4 linked regions of the Homo sapiens genome follow. The protein of the gene in region 4 interacts with the protein of the main gene of each other region in a pairwise test. Each region holds a gene or a part of one and is shown on either strand. Other genes may lie near its edges.

Evidence for each region. Proteins that work in one complex are often made in the same cells at the same time.
Region 1: the proteins of ACBD5 (region 4) and TMEM229B interact in binary tests that used the Homo sapiens proteins (3 or more experiments, as listed by UniProt).
Region 2: the proteins of ACBD5 (region 4) and PEX19 come close enough for resonance energy transfer, tested with the Homo sapiens proteins (one large-scale study listed by BioGRID).
Region 3: the proteins of ACBD5 (region 4) and SLC38A7 interact in binary tests that used the Homo sapiens proteins (3 or more experiments, as listed by UniProt).

What each region holds. Positions count from the first base shown.
Region 1 is NC_000014.9:67,478,722-67,482,279, forward strand, and holds part of TMEM229B (transmembrane protein 229B), read right to left. Parts: intron 1-3,558.
Region 2 is NC_000001.11:160,279,221-160,282,191, forward strand, and holds part of PEX19 (peroxisomal biogenesis factor 19), read right to left. Parts: coding exon 2,819-2,971; intron 1,027-2,818; coding exon 850-1,026; intron 626-849; coding exon 581-625; intron 415-580; coding exon 331-414; 3' UTR 1-330. UniProt on the Homo sapiens protein: Necessary for early peroxisomal biogenesis. Acts both as a cytosolic chaperone and as an import receptor for peroxisomal membrane proteins (PMPs).
Region 3 is NC_000016.10:58,667,771-58,671,328, reverse strand, and holds part of SLC38A7 (sodium-coupled neutral amino acid transporter 7), read left to right. Parts: intron 1-84; coding exon 85-284; exon of another isoform or gene 285-459; intron 460-1,161; coding exon 1,162-1,216; intron 1,217-3,558. UniProt on the Homo sapiens protein: Symporter that selectively cotransports sodium ions and amino acids, such as L-glutamine and L-asparagine from the lysosome into the cytoplasm and may participates in mTORC1 activation. The transport activity requires an acidic lysosomal lumen.
Region 4 is NC_000010.11:27,220,274-27,223,935, forward strand, and holds part of ACBD5 (acyl-CoA-binding domain-containing protein 5), read right to left. Parts: intron 3,180-3,662; coding exon 3,065-3,179; intron 2,967-3,064; coding exon of another isoform or gene 2,934-2,966; intron 1-2,933. UniProt on the Homo sapiens protein: Acyl-CoA binding protein which acts as the peroxisome receptor for pexophagy but is dispensable for aggrephagy and nonselective autophagy. Binds medium- and long-chain acyl-CoA esters.

The DNA of each region.
Region 1 (3,558 bases), on a different chromosome or scaffold from region 4:
TGAACCCTCCTTTAAGACCCAGCTCCTCCTCTGTGAGGACTTTCCTAAGCACCCTGACTCCAGAGTTGTCTTCCCACTTCTGCACCCTCCCTTCTCTGTGGTAATAGTGAGCACTCTGCTTCACTGGATTCATCTGAACGCCAGCACCAGCAGCCTCCTGAGGAATGCTTGTTTAAGATAGTGGTAAGAGAAAAAAGCAGGATTCAAAACTGAATATTCAACCTAACTCCGATTCTGCAAAGGCATGCATATGTGCACATATACAAAAAAATTAAACAACAATCATCTCTGGATGGTGATATCATATGTGCTTTTTTTCTTTATATTTTTCTGCATACTTTTTTTTCCTAACAAGCATGTATAACTTTTATAAAACTAAAATTTCATCTTAAAAATGCTTATGGAGGCTGGACGTGGTGGCTCACCCTGTAAACCCAGCACTTTGGGAGGCTGAGGTGGGTGGATCATGAGGTCAGGAGTTCAAGACCAGCCTGGCCAACATGGTGAAACCCTGTCTCTACTAAAAGTACAAAAATTAGCTGGGCGTGGTGGCGTGTGCCTGTAATCCCAGCTACTCGGGAGGCTGAGGCAGAAGAATTGCTTGAACCGGGACCCAGGAGGTGGAGGTAGCAGTGAGCGAGATCGTACCACTGCACTCCAGCCTGGGCTACAGAGCAAGACTCTGTCTCAAAAAAAAAAAAAAATGCTTGTGGAAGCTGGGTGCAGTAGCTCATGCCTGTAATCCCAGTACTTTGGGAGGCCGAGGTGGGTAGATCACCTGAGGTCAGGAGTTCGAGACCAGCCTGGCCAACATGGTGAAACCACATCCCTACTAAAAATACAAAAATTAGCCGGGCATGGTGGCATGCACCTGTAATCCCAGCTACTCGGGAGGCTGAGGCAGGAGAATCGCTTGAACCTGGGAGGCGGAGGTTGCCGTGAGCCGAGATAGCGCCACTGCACTCTAGCCTAGGTGACAGAGTGAGACTCCGTCTCAAAAAAGGAAAAAAAAATGCTTGTGGAATGAATATGTATTCACCGTATTCATACCTCGTGTATAGAAGGTGTTCAATGAATTTGCTAAGCAAATGAACCCAAAGAAACCTGAAGTCATGTAAAATTATTGCAGGCTCTTCCCTCCTGTGTCATCCAACAACAAACCATGCCTCACAGGTCTCAATATGGCCAGCTGGTTAAGTTCAGGGACCCCAGATGATCCTAACTGCCTGGGTTGGAATCCTGGCTGATGCTTTCCACCTGTGAGACCTAATGGACGCTGCCCAACCACCCTGTGCCTCAGGGTCCTTGTAGGTAAAGTGAGGATAACGGAAGTAATGACCACAGAAGGCTGTTGTGAGGACGAATGAACTCGTACATATACACTACTTAAAATACAGCTAAGGCTCCAGAAAGGGCAGCTGTCATTTCTGGCACAGAGCCAGACCTCTGGACAGCCCCTCCTGCTTTTACACCGCCTCTTACCCGATGCAGGGTCACTGTGCCCCTGCTCTCGGCAGCCTCCAGGCAGCCCTTCCTGTCAAGCAGGTTAGGTCTTCATCACAACCCTGAGCACCAAGCTAGCGAGCCAAGAAATCGGGTGGCAATAATAACCCCACATATGGCCCTCAGGAGAACAAAACTCCCACAGACATCCCGGGAGACTGAAGGTGAGCCTCCAGCTTCCCTGTGGCTACCGAGGGATGAATGGAAGAGGAAGGGTGTCAGAGCCAGCCCGAGGGGCAGACTTGAAAAGATGGTGGAATGAAAGGGGCACAGCCTCTCACCCCCTCATTTAACCTCCTACCCCCGGGCAGGAGAGAACAGATCCAGGCTCCAGGGGAACACACTGAGGCGGTCTGAGGGCCTGAGACAGATGGCACAGCACAGGGATGTGGAGACCTCTGGACCTCCTACCCCAACTCAGGCCCCATGACCTGCACGTATCCCCCTGGCTCTTCCAACCCCCAGGGCCCGGGCTGAGGGAACAGGAACCTCACAGGGGCTCTCCTGCAGCAGCCTGACATGACTGTGTGGATCTCATTACTCAGGCCAGACCCCAGCCTTGAAGCTGACTTTAAACCCTGCTCTTCTTGCCTCTGATCTCTCTGGGATGGCCCAGACCGGTTTCCCAGCTGGTAACAGACGGGAGGGTCCAGTCTCTTCCCCAACCCCAGCAAGTAACTTGGGAGAGTCAGATCCCAAAACCCTTGGAGCAGAAGCAAGAAGAAAGGGGTAGCTGTCAAAGGGAGAGAGAAACCTAGGGTGAGAGACAGGAAGTTGCTGAACAGAAGAGAGGATGGAGTTCATGCCTGCAGTCCCAGCACTTTTGGAGGCTGAGGTGGGAGAATAGCTTGAGGCCAGGAGTTCGAGACCAGCCTGGGCAACATAGCGAGACCACCATCTCTACAAAAAGAAAAAAAAGTAGGCTGGTTTGATGTGGTGTGCCTGTAGTCCCAGACGCTAAGGCAGGAGGATCCCTTGAGTTCAAGAGTTTGAGGCTACAGTGAGCTATGATTGTGCCACTGCACTCCAGCATGGACAATGAGCAAGACCCTGTCTCTTAAAAAAGAAAGAAAGAAAGAAAAACAAAAAAGCGAGATGGGGGAGAGAGAAATATGGTGTGCCCCAAGCCCAGATTCTGTTTCTGGGCAGCAGGAAGCCATGGGTAGTAGATGGAGGGGAAGCACACCACGGCAATGTCAGACAGTGTCCGAGGGCAGAACTAGGAGAACATAGCTGGTCCATGCAAGACCAACAGGGGAAATGAAAGACCTGAGTCAGGGCAGAAGATGGGGTTGAAGAGAAAGGAATAGGAGACAGTGTCATTGGCTGAGGTGGCAGCTCCCAGTGTGGTGGGGAAGATGATAATATTAGAGGCTGGGCATTGACTTGGATGCGTTTTCAGAACCCCACTCTCCAAACCCATTTCTAATCAGCACAGGAGCTGTGCTTAACTTTGAGCTAGGACAGGCTCGCCCACCCCATACAGGGCCTGACAGGCCTCTATTCCCTGCCCCGGCCTCCACCCACCCGACTCCCTATATCCTTAGGCTCCTTCCACTAGCTCCTTGCTCAGCCCTGGGATCAGAGCCCTGGGAAAGCCTGCTGCAGGGAGAACCGGCAGCTCAGGGGACCTTGGCTTCTTTCTCCTGGTGACAAACAAAACTGTCCTGAGACCTGTGACATGAAGATAGGACAGCCCAGGAACAGAAATTCAGGGTGGATTGAAGAGGAGGAGAGTGTGAGCAAGGTTGAATGCAGGAGGACAGAGTTTGGAGAGCAAAGGATAGCTTCACAAGCAGGGTTTCATTGAACAACATTCAAATCCGAGAGTCCTCATACCTGATGAAAGGGCCTGGGCAAACAGAGTCCCATCGAAGGGCCAGGACTCAAGGTGACTTGTGAGGTCTAGGAACTACCCCTTCAAGGGAACAGGTGATGGGGAAGGGGAAGGGGATCTGGCTTTCAGAGCCCTGTTCACTAAGAGCATCTCACCGGCTGCTCTCCGAGCCTGCTGTTCCACAGGGTGGCAGGGGACATGGCCAGCAGTTGAGAGGG
Region 2 (2,971 bases), on a different chromosome or scaffold from region 4:
AGTGTGGCCACATATAACATTATTTTGAGAAAGGAAAGAAAGTGCATGCCCCAAAAGGGATGCCTTCCTTCACCTTGCAGGTAGCTGGAACTTTGATAGTGGCAGAAACCACAATGGAGTAGGGTTCACAGAAATGGCCTGTGAAACAGACCCTATTCCTAGAGAGACAGAGGAAAAACCTCAGCTGGTATGGCACAATCTTGAATGGGATGACAGAGGGCAGCGGGCAGACTTCTCCCGCAGGTGACACTCCTGCCTCAGGTCCCAATGGTTCTGCTGACTCCAGATGTTCCCCATAGCTGGGACTCAGAGAGGAAAACGTGTTGTGTTTCACATGATCAGACACTGTTCACCACTGGCACCTGGTGGGCCCGAAAGATTGAGGGCATCCAGGTCAAAGTTGAGGCCAGGAGGCTGGGGAAGAGATGAAGGGACTCAGATAGTTGCTCATTTTTTAGGACAGACGTGAAGATCCATCCCCAGTAGCCACAATTTTCACCTTAGGTGGAATCCTGAGAGGTTAAAGAATTCTGGAAATTGGGGACTCAAATTAAAATCTGGAAAAATAAGACATACTCACCATCTCTCCAGCCAGCTCTTTTGGAGGATGGCCTAAATCTTGTAGCTAGAAAATAAGGAAAATGGAACATGAAATAGAGAAAAGCCCAGAAAACAACAGAGGATCCAGAAGAGGAATCTAATGAATGATCTCTCTATTTCTTCTGAGAGAGATCACAAGAGAGGATCCCTCCTCCACCTAGGTCTAGCAGTATTGCATCCTTCCCAGATACTTCCTTCACTGAACACCTAAGTGGACAGCACCAGTGGGCAGAAGGCAAGAGGCCTTACCTGCTGCATAAGATCCAGCACCATCTCAAAACGAGCCTTTTGAGTGGTTTCACTGTCTGTGGGGGTCTCTGCCTCAAACTGCTCACATATTTTGCACATGACGCTGTGCTGCTCCTGATATTTTTCAAACTGCTCTGGAGGTAGAGATTCCCGATGACTCTGCAACCATTCTGGATACTAAGAAAAGAGAGAATGGGTGGAAAAGAATTAAGTGAACAATGGATATGGATGGGTAATCAGAACAATGTGATTAAAATGTGAAAGGGAAAGGGACGTAGAAAAACGAAAAGCTAAATAAGTAAGTTCATCATGAAAAGCGGCACTGACTCCAACCAGATCACCTGGCCATGTTAGCATTTATGGTCACCAGAGATTGGTAAGCTTCTGTAAAGGGCCAGACAGTGAATATTTTAGGCTTCAAGGGCCACATATGGTCTCTATTGTGTTTTTTTTTTCTTTTTTTTCGAGACAGAGTTTTACTCTGTCACCCAGGCTGGAGTGTGATGGTGTGATCACCACTCACTGCAGCCTCGATCTCCCCAGGCTCAAGCAATCCTCCCACCTGAGCCTCCCCAAGTAGCTGGGTCTACAAGTGTGCACCACTGTGACTGGCTAATTTTTTTGTATTTTGTAGAGACAGGGTTTCATCATGTTGCTCAAGCTGGTCTTAAACTCCTGGGCTCAAGCAATCTGTCCACCGTGGCCTCCCAAAGCGCTGGGACTATAGGAGTGAGCCACTACGCTCGGCTATTGCACATTTTCTTTGTAGTTTTTTTCAAATGACCTTAAAAATGTAAAAACCATTATTTGCTAGAGAGTTGGATTTGTCCCACCCAGGTCTTGGCCTGCTGACTCGTGGTCTGTACTATTCATTACACACTTACCCACATTTCCCCATGTCACTGAAAAGCTTCTATTCCTGTATTTTATCTCTCCAGTAAAACTATACACTCTTTAGCCAGGTGTGGTGGCTCACACTTGTAATCCCAGCATTTTGGGAGGCTGAGGTGGGAGGATCACTTGAGCTCAGGAGTTTGAGACCAGCCTGAGCAATATAGTGAGAGCTCAACTCTACAAAAAATTTTGAAAACATTGGCCAAGCATGGTGGCACACACCTGTAGTCCCAGCCACTCAGGAGGCTGAGATGGGAGAAACACTTGAGCCTGGGATGGGGAGGCTGTGGTGAGCCAAGATCGTGCCACTGTGCTCCAACTGGAGCTAGACCCTGTCTCAAAACAAAATGATACAACCACACATATAAGCTCTTTTATGGCAGGGACCATCATTTAAACTACGCTTACACTGTTCACATCACAAAGCCAGTAAGTAAATCCTCAGTTAATTCTTTTTCTTTTTCAGATGGAGTCTTGCTCTGTCACCCAGGCCGGAGTACAGTGGCACAATCTCAGCTCACTGCAACCTCTGCCTCCCAGGTTCAAGTGATTCTCCTGCTGCCTCCTGAGTAGTTGCGATCACAGGCGTGAGCCACTACGCCAGGATAATTTTTGTATTTTTACTACAGACGGGGTTTCACCATGTTGGCCAGGCTGGTCTCGAACTCCTGACCTCAGGTGATCCACCCGCCTCGGCCTCCCAAGGTGCTGGGATTACAGGCATGAGCCACCATGCCCAGCCAAATTCTTGCTGGAGAAATGAAGTCAGAAATGCAAGATTGATCAGACAACAATCCCAGAGTCTTGAACCAGTTTATAGAAAACTAGAACTGAAGGATTTCCTCTTAGACCCCAAACGTTATACCTCTTATACCCCAACATACCGTGTGACAGCTTTATTCTCTCAGAGACACAACTCTCCCCAACCCCCAACTCTCCCTGCCTCAAATAAATAAAGAAGGAAAAAAAGCACACTCGAGTTACTCTTTCTGCAGGCTCTGAGTAGACAAAATAGCCCACATCAGTTGATGTGATGGAAAATGAAGAGAAAAAGCAGAAATGGAAGTTCACAAACCTTTTCTGTGATCTCCTTCAGTGATGGGTACAGCACATCCTTGGAGAGTAGGTTCTGCATAATACTCTGCATGATGGGGAGGATGTTCCCTTCCCCATCCCCTTCGTCCATGCCTAGCCCCTCCATGGCCTTGGTCAGCTCTTCTTCCGACAT
Region 3 (3,558 bases), on a different chromosome or scaffold from region 4:
CAGTTAGGGGTCTGGCTCCTGTGAGCTAGAGGTGGGGAGCTGCTAGCAGCAGGGGCACCTCTAAGCCCTTCTCCATGTGGGCAGGGCGGTGGTGGAAGGCCTGTGGCTGCGCTACCAGGGGGTGCCAGTGGAGGAGGACGTGGGGCGGGAGCGGCGGCGGCGAGTGCTGCAGACGCTGGTCTGGTTCCTGCTCACCCTGCTGCTGGCGCTCTTCATCCCTGACATCGGCAAGGTGATCTCAGTCATTGGAGGCCTGGCCGCCTGCTTCATCTTCGTCTTCCCAGGTGCGGACCCCTGGCGCCCCATCTCACAGCCCCACAGCACAGACTCCCAGGGCCTGCCTAGCCTCAGCTCCCTACTTGCTCAAAACATGCAGGAGAGAGTAACCACCAGCACTAATTGATCACCTGTCTCGCCTCTGTACTAGCCCCTATCCAAGCATTATCTCCTGGAAAGAAGGTATAGTTGTGATCTCCAGTTTACTGATGGCACGTGGGGCTCAGAAAGGGTCACAGACTTGCCTAGAGCTTAACAAACTCAACTAGTAACCTTTTCCATCCCACGCTGTCTGGGTCCAGAGTCTATTCTTTTAACCATTCATTCAGGTGTCTGCTGCTCCTTGACTATGAGGGATCTATCTGGCTGGTTCAGCCCATTACAGCCCAGAGGGCAGTGGGGTCTGGGGTGGCACCCTGACACAGACATCAGGGAACCTGGGTTCCAGACACAGATCTACCGCCAGATCCCTGGAGAACTGTCCTGTCTGCCCAGCCATGAGTTCCACCCTTTTCCAGCTTGTCTCTATCCAGGAAGCCACCCTGAAAGCCCCAGCTGCTTTGCTTGGAGCAGGGGAGCCAGATCTGCTGGGAAGTGTACTAGGAAGACCCCTGGGGTTGGGCCACCACTGAGTCACCATTGAGTGCTGTCCCTTTAGCTGAGTCTAGCATGCTGCCCAAGGGGTCTTGTCAGATGCCAGCCTGTCATGGGAGAGCAGATGCCAGATGACCCCAGCAGGATGTGGTGTGGGGGCAGAGATGGAATTTCTAGAAGAGTAAACATGGGCCTTTCTCCATCCAGCACTGCTTCTTGGGAAAGGAGGTGGCTAGGAGGGAGGGAGCCCTCTCCCCTCACAAATGCTCAGGGCCACTTCTTCTCTTTCAGGGCTGTGCCTCATTCAAGCCAAACTCTCTGAGATGGAAGAGGTCAAACCAGCCAGGTAAAGCAGGACCCAGCCCTTGATCCTCTCAGGGAGGTGCTGGATTGGAATGTGGCTTTGTGGGGGCCTTAAAACAGATAGGAGTCAGAGGCTTGTGTACTTAGAAATCATGGGTTTTTGTTTTGTTTTTTTTTTTTTGAGCCGGAGTCTCGCTGTGTCGCCCAGCCTGGAGTGCAGTGGCACGATCTCAGCTCACTGCAAGCTCCGCCTCCTGGGTTCACACCATTCTCGTGCCTCAGCCTCCCGAGTAGCTAGGACTACAGATGCCTGCCACCACACCCAGCTAATTTTTGTATTTTTAGTAGAGACGAGGTTTCACCATGTTGGCCAGGCCGGTCTCGAACTCCTGACCTTAGGTGATCCTCCTTCCTCGGCCTCCCAAAGTGCTGGCATTACAGGCGTGAGCCACCACACCCAGCCAGGTTGTTGTTGTTTTTTTTTTAATACTTTTAAAAATTCGGTAGTGTGCTAGTTGTTAACAATTTAAACATTAATAAAGGGCTTAATACAAAAAGATGGAAGTCCCTCTTCCCCCACAACCCACTCGCCCCCACATCCTTTCTGAGATAGCTCCATGTTACCAGTATGGTCTGTGTCCTCAACCACTTCTGTACATGTGTGCGTGTCTGTGTACACATAGCTATGGAGATGTATACATAGATGCAGGGCTCTTGTTTTGTTTTATGAAAAGTGGTTTCAGCCAGGTGCATTGGCTCATGCCTGTAATCCCAGCACTTTGGGAGGCCAACATGGGCAGATCACCCGAGGTCAGGAGTTCGAGACCAGCCTGACCAACATGGTGAAACCCCATCTCTACTAAAAATACAAAATTAGCTGGGCATGGTGGCACCTGCCTGTAATCCCAGCTACTTGGGAGACTGAGGCAGGAGAATTGCTTGAACCCAGGAGGCGGAGGTTGCAGTGAGCCGAGATCACACCATTACACTCCAGCCTGGGCAACAAGAGGGAAACTCTGTCTCAAAAAAAAAAAAAAAAAAAAAAAAAAAAAGCCATACAAACATGTCTAAAAAAGAAAAAAAATTGGCCAGGCACAGTGACTCACGCCTGTAATCCCAGCACTTTGGGAGGCCAAGACAGGCAGATCACCTGAGGTCAGGAGTTCGAGACCAGCCTGGCCAACATGGCAAAACCCCGTCTTTACTAAAAATACAAAAATTACCTGGTTGTGGTGGCGCATGCCTGTAGTCCTAGCTCGGGAGGCTGAGGTAGGAGAATTGCTTGAACCCCGGAGGCGGAGGTTGCAGTAAGTGGAGATCGCACCACTGCACTCCAGCCTGGGTGATAGCAAAACTCTGTCTCAAAAAAAGAAAAAGAAGAAGAAGAAAAAAAATCACCCTTTATTTCTTTTTTTTTTGTCTTTTTTTTTTTTTTTTTTTTTGAGATGGAGTTTCACTCGTTGCCCAGGCTGGAGTGCAATGGCGCGATCTCTGCTCACTACAACAACCTCCACCTCCCGGGTTCAAGCGATTCTCCTGCCTCAGCCTCCTGAGTAGCTTGGATTACAGGCGCCCACCACCACACCCAGCTAATTTTTTGGGTTTGTTGTTGTTGTTTTGAGATGGAATCTCGCTCTGTCACCCAGGCTGGAGTGCAGTGGCATGATCTCGGCTCACTGCAACCTCCAGGGTATCTGGGATTACAGGTGCGCAGCACCATGCCTGGCTAATTTTTGTATTTTTGGTAGAGACGGGGTTTCACCATGTTGGCTAGGCTGATCTCGAACTCCTGACCTCAGGTGATCCGCCCACCTTGGCCTCCCAAAGTTCTGGGATTACAGGCGTGAGCCACCATACCCAGCCATTTTTTGTATTTTTTTAGTAGAGACGGGGTTTCACCACGCTGGCCAGGCTGGTCTCAAACTCCTGACCTCAGGTGATCCACCTGCCTTGGCCTCCCAAAGTGCTGGGATTATAGACATGAGCCACCACACCCAGCCTAATTTTTCTATTTTTAGTAGAGATGGGGTTTCGCCATCTTGCCCAGGCTGGTCTTGAACTCCTGACCTCAGGTGATCCATCTGCCTCGGCCTCCCAAAGTGCTGGAATTACAGACATGAGCCACTGCACCCAGCCTAATTTTTCTGTTTTTAGTAGAGATGGGGTTTTGCCATCTTGCCCAGGCTGGTCTCGAACTCCTGACCTCAGGTTGCCCGCCTTGGCCTCCCAAAGTGCTGGGATTACAGGTGTGAGCCACCACACCCGGCCGGAAATCACCCTTTATTTCAATTCCGTTTTATCCCTGTTGCTGTTAATTGGTACATACATTTGCAGATGTCTGCTTTTTGTTTCCTTTTTTTAATGAAATAGACCACATTCCATGTG
Region 4 (3,662 bases):
TATTACCTTTAGGACTTCAGGTGCACAACTCACATTATCTGTCTTTATGATATTTAAGTTTTTTTCTTAAAGTATCCATTAATGTGATCAATCACTTACAAAAGCAAATTGTCCAAGTGGCCAAAGCTATATCCCGAGGGTAAATACATCAGAGCTTCTCAACTTTAATGTGCATACAAATCTTCTGAGAGCTATTTAAGATGCAGATTCTGAATTAGTATGTCTAGGGTGATCTAAGATTCCAAATTTCTATAAAGATCACATTTGTTACCAATGCTGTTGGTTACTGGACACTGTTTTGAGAACATGGATTGAAAGACAATATTTTTGAGGTAACAATACTCCCCAAAATGATCTGCAAATTCACTGCAATCTGTATCAAAATCCAAGCTGGCATTTCTGCAAAAATTGACATGCAGATTCTAAAATTCATATGAAAATGTGAGGGATCAAGATTAGCCAAAACAATCTTGAAAAATAACAAAATTGGAGGACTCATCATTCCTGATTTCAAAACTTACTGTATATGTATATTCTGAAAATGGCAATGTAAAACTGATACATCTGTTCTATTGGACCTAAATGGCTACTTTTAAGGAAATGCTTTGTTTAGAAAAAAAAAGGCAAGACTGCAAACTGTTTTGCAATTTGGTAATATCTTACAAAATTACAAACATCAAACATTTCTAACTCCATTTCTAATATTTCTTACAGATATGCTTTCACATATGTGAAATGACAAATGTACGTGGTTATTCTCAGCAGTATTTTCTGAAGATCAAAGGAGTAAATAACCTAAATGTCCACCAGAATGGCTCAGGTTAAAAAAATTATGGTGCAGGTCCACAATCCCTTACTTACAACCCTTGGATCCAGATACATTTTGAAATCTCAAGTTTTCTAATTTTGCAAAGGTTATATGGTACATATGCCATTTGGTATATTATGTAACACATCCAATAGAGTCTAAGGCAGCTCTCACTAAAAAGAGAATGTGATTTTTGCAGCAAAACATATAAATAGTTACATTAAAGAGGAAAGAGACTCAAAATACCCTCGTTTTACTTCAGGTCAGGTTTTACTCCCCAGATTTTTAGTTCATATCAGACAGGTTTTGCTGCCAAATGAGTTTACCAAAAAACTTCTGGTCTTCAAAGATTTTTAAAATTGTAAGTTATAGCTAGGTAGCTGTGAGCCTGCACCTTTATTACTATTATTTACTCTTCTTTGTTTTATAATTAGCTGTTTAAATATCTGCCTCTGGCCAGTGGCTGGACACCACAGCAGCAGATCCAGATTTATTTCCCTCTGCATCCCAACATGCCTGACATACATAAAACATTTAATTTTTTTTTTCTGGCAGGGTACAATTGCTCATGCCTTTAATTCCAGTGCTTTGGGAAGCTGAGTTGGGAGGATTACCTGAGGTCAGGAGTTCGAGATCAGCCTGGCCCACATGGCAAAACCCTGGCTCTACTAAAAATACAAAAATTAGCCATACAAGAATACAAGTGTACACTTGTAATCCCAGCTACCTGGGAGGCTAAGTCAGGAGAATTGCTTGAACCCAGGAGTTGGAGGTTGCAGTGAGTCAAGATGGGACCACTGCACTCCAGTCAGTGTGACAGAGGAAGACTCCATCTCAAAAAAAAAAAAAAAAAAAAAAGAAAAGAAGAAAACATTTAGTTTTTTCTCTGAATTGAATAAGCATGCCTTATAAGAAGGACTACTTGTTAATATTTGACTTCTGTAAGCAAATCAGATGTAGAATGATGTGGTAGAGTTATGCCCAGTAAGCAGTCAGTACTACTTGCACGTGGTTTATGACCGTGACAAGGACCGATTTCAGCACAGGAAGATTACTATTCTGAAATGCTGCCATTATTGTCAATTATTAAAAGATGTCTTATAAATAGGGATGTCAAGGGAAAAAAAGGGGATGCCAGGCGATTTTTATTTAAAGGGTATATAATTTTCTCTTAAATTGACTCTTGTGGTCTCATTTCACTCTGCTTTCTAAAAAAAATTCAAGATCAAATGTTTAGTTAATACCAACAAATCTCCCATTTTATTCAACTCCTACAAGTATGCAAAACACAACCCTTTCAATCCTTTGTGTACATGAAGACAAAATTCTAAAAAAAAAAAAAAAATAGAAGTTGTAATCCATGCAGAGATGCTTGAACCAAAATAAAGAAAAAAGAAAACAAGCTAAATGAATTAACTGTCTTGCATTAGCTTATATGCTATAGTTAAACCACACCCTAAACACATCTATTTTTAATTTCTTTTTTTGTTTGTTTTTTTCTTTTTTTGAGACAGCATCTCACTCTGTTGCTCAGGCCGGAGTGCAGCAGAGTGATCTCGTCTCACTGCAAACTTTGCCTCCTGGGTTCAAGTGATTCTTGTGCCTCAGCCTCCCAAGTAGCTGGGATCACAGGCGTGTGCCACCATGCCTGGCTAATTTTTGTGTTTTTTGTAGAGACGGGGTTTCACCAAGTTGGCAAGTCTGGTCTTGAACTCCTGACCTCAAGGTGATCTGCCCGCTTTCGCTTCCCAAAGTGCTGGGATTACAGGCATGAGCCACCACACCTGGCCAACATATCCATTTTAAAATTAGCTAGTAAATCATTGAATTCAAAGTACTATTAACGTAATTCTCAAAGCAAAATAGAAAACATGACCTATCAAAATAAAACCATGAATTCTGCTATAATTTCGAATATACTAAGTAAACTACCTGGTGTATTTTAATAGCTTACCACTTAAGGGTTAAAATTTTAAGGGTTTATAATGTTTTGGAACTTCATATAATGTGTTTGCCTGGAATGAAAACTCCTGGGTGACAAGATTGTAAGTTCTGTAAGTTTGTGCAGAATTCTTTTGACATGTAAATTTTAAACAAAACTTTTACATGATTTCATGATTCCTACCTTCTAAACATTTAGAGATTTTCTCCAGTCGGACTGGCGCGTGAAAGTAAGAAAAAAAATCAGAGATACAAATATTAATATGTGCATAATATATCAGTTGATGAATTTAAAAATAGGTAAAATAGTCCAACCTGAGGTTATATCAGAACTCCTGCCACTCTTTTTGTCCTCGACAATTTCATAAAATGGACCTATGACACGCAGCAATTCTTCAACTTTCTCAGTCATTGGCATAGTTTCAATAATCTGTAATCAAAAGAAACAAATATTGTGAAATCACAAACTCTTAATTTGATCTCCACTAATATCAAATAATCTCCTATTTCCAATTTGTCAATAATTTTAATATTTGACATTCATAATAGACTCTCTGAAGGATCTACATTAATTACATACTTAATGTATACACACTGTGGCCGGGCTAAGTGGTGGCTCATGCCTGTAATCCCAGCACTTTGGGAGGCCAAGGCAGGAGGATGGCTTGAGCCCAGAAGTTTGAGACCAGCCTTGGCAACACAGTGAGACCCTGTCTCTTAAAAATTTTTTAAAAAACATTAACCAGGCACGGTGGTGTGTGTCTGTGGTCCCAGCTACTCCAGAGGCTGAGGTGGGAGGATTACATGAGCCTGGGAGGTCGAGGCTACAGTGAGCCATTATGGCACCACTGCACTCCAGGCTTGGTGACAGAGTGAGATGCCATCTCCAAAAATTAAAAAATAAAATAAAAGG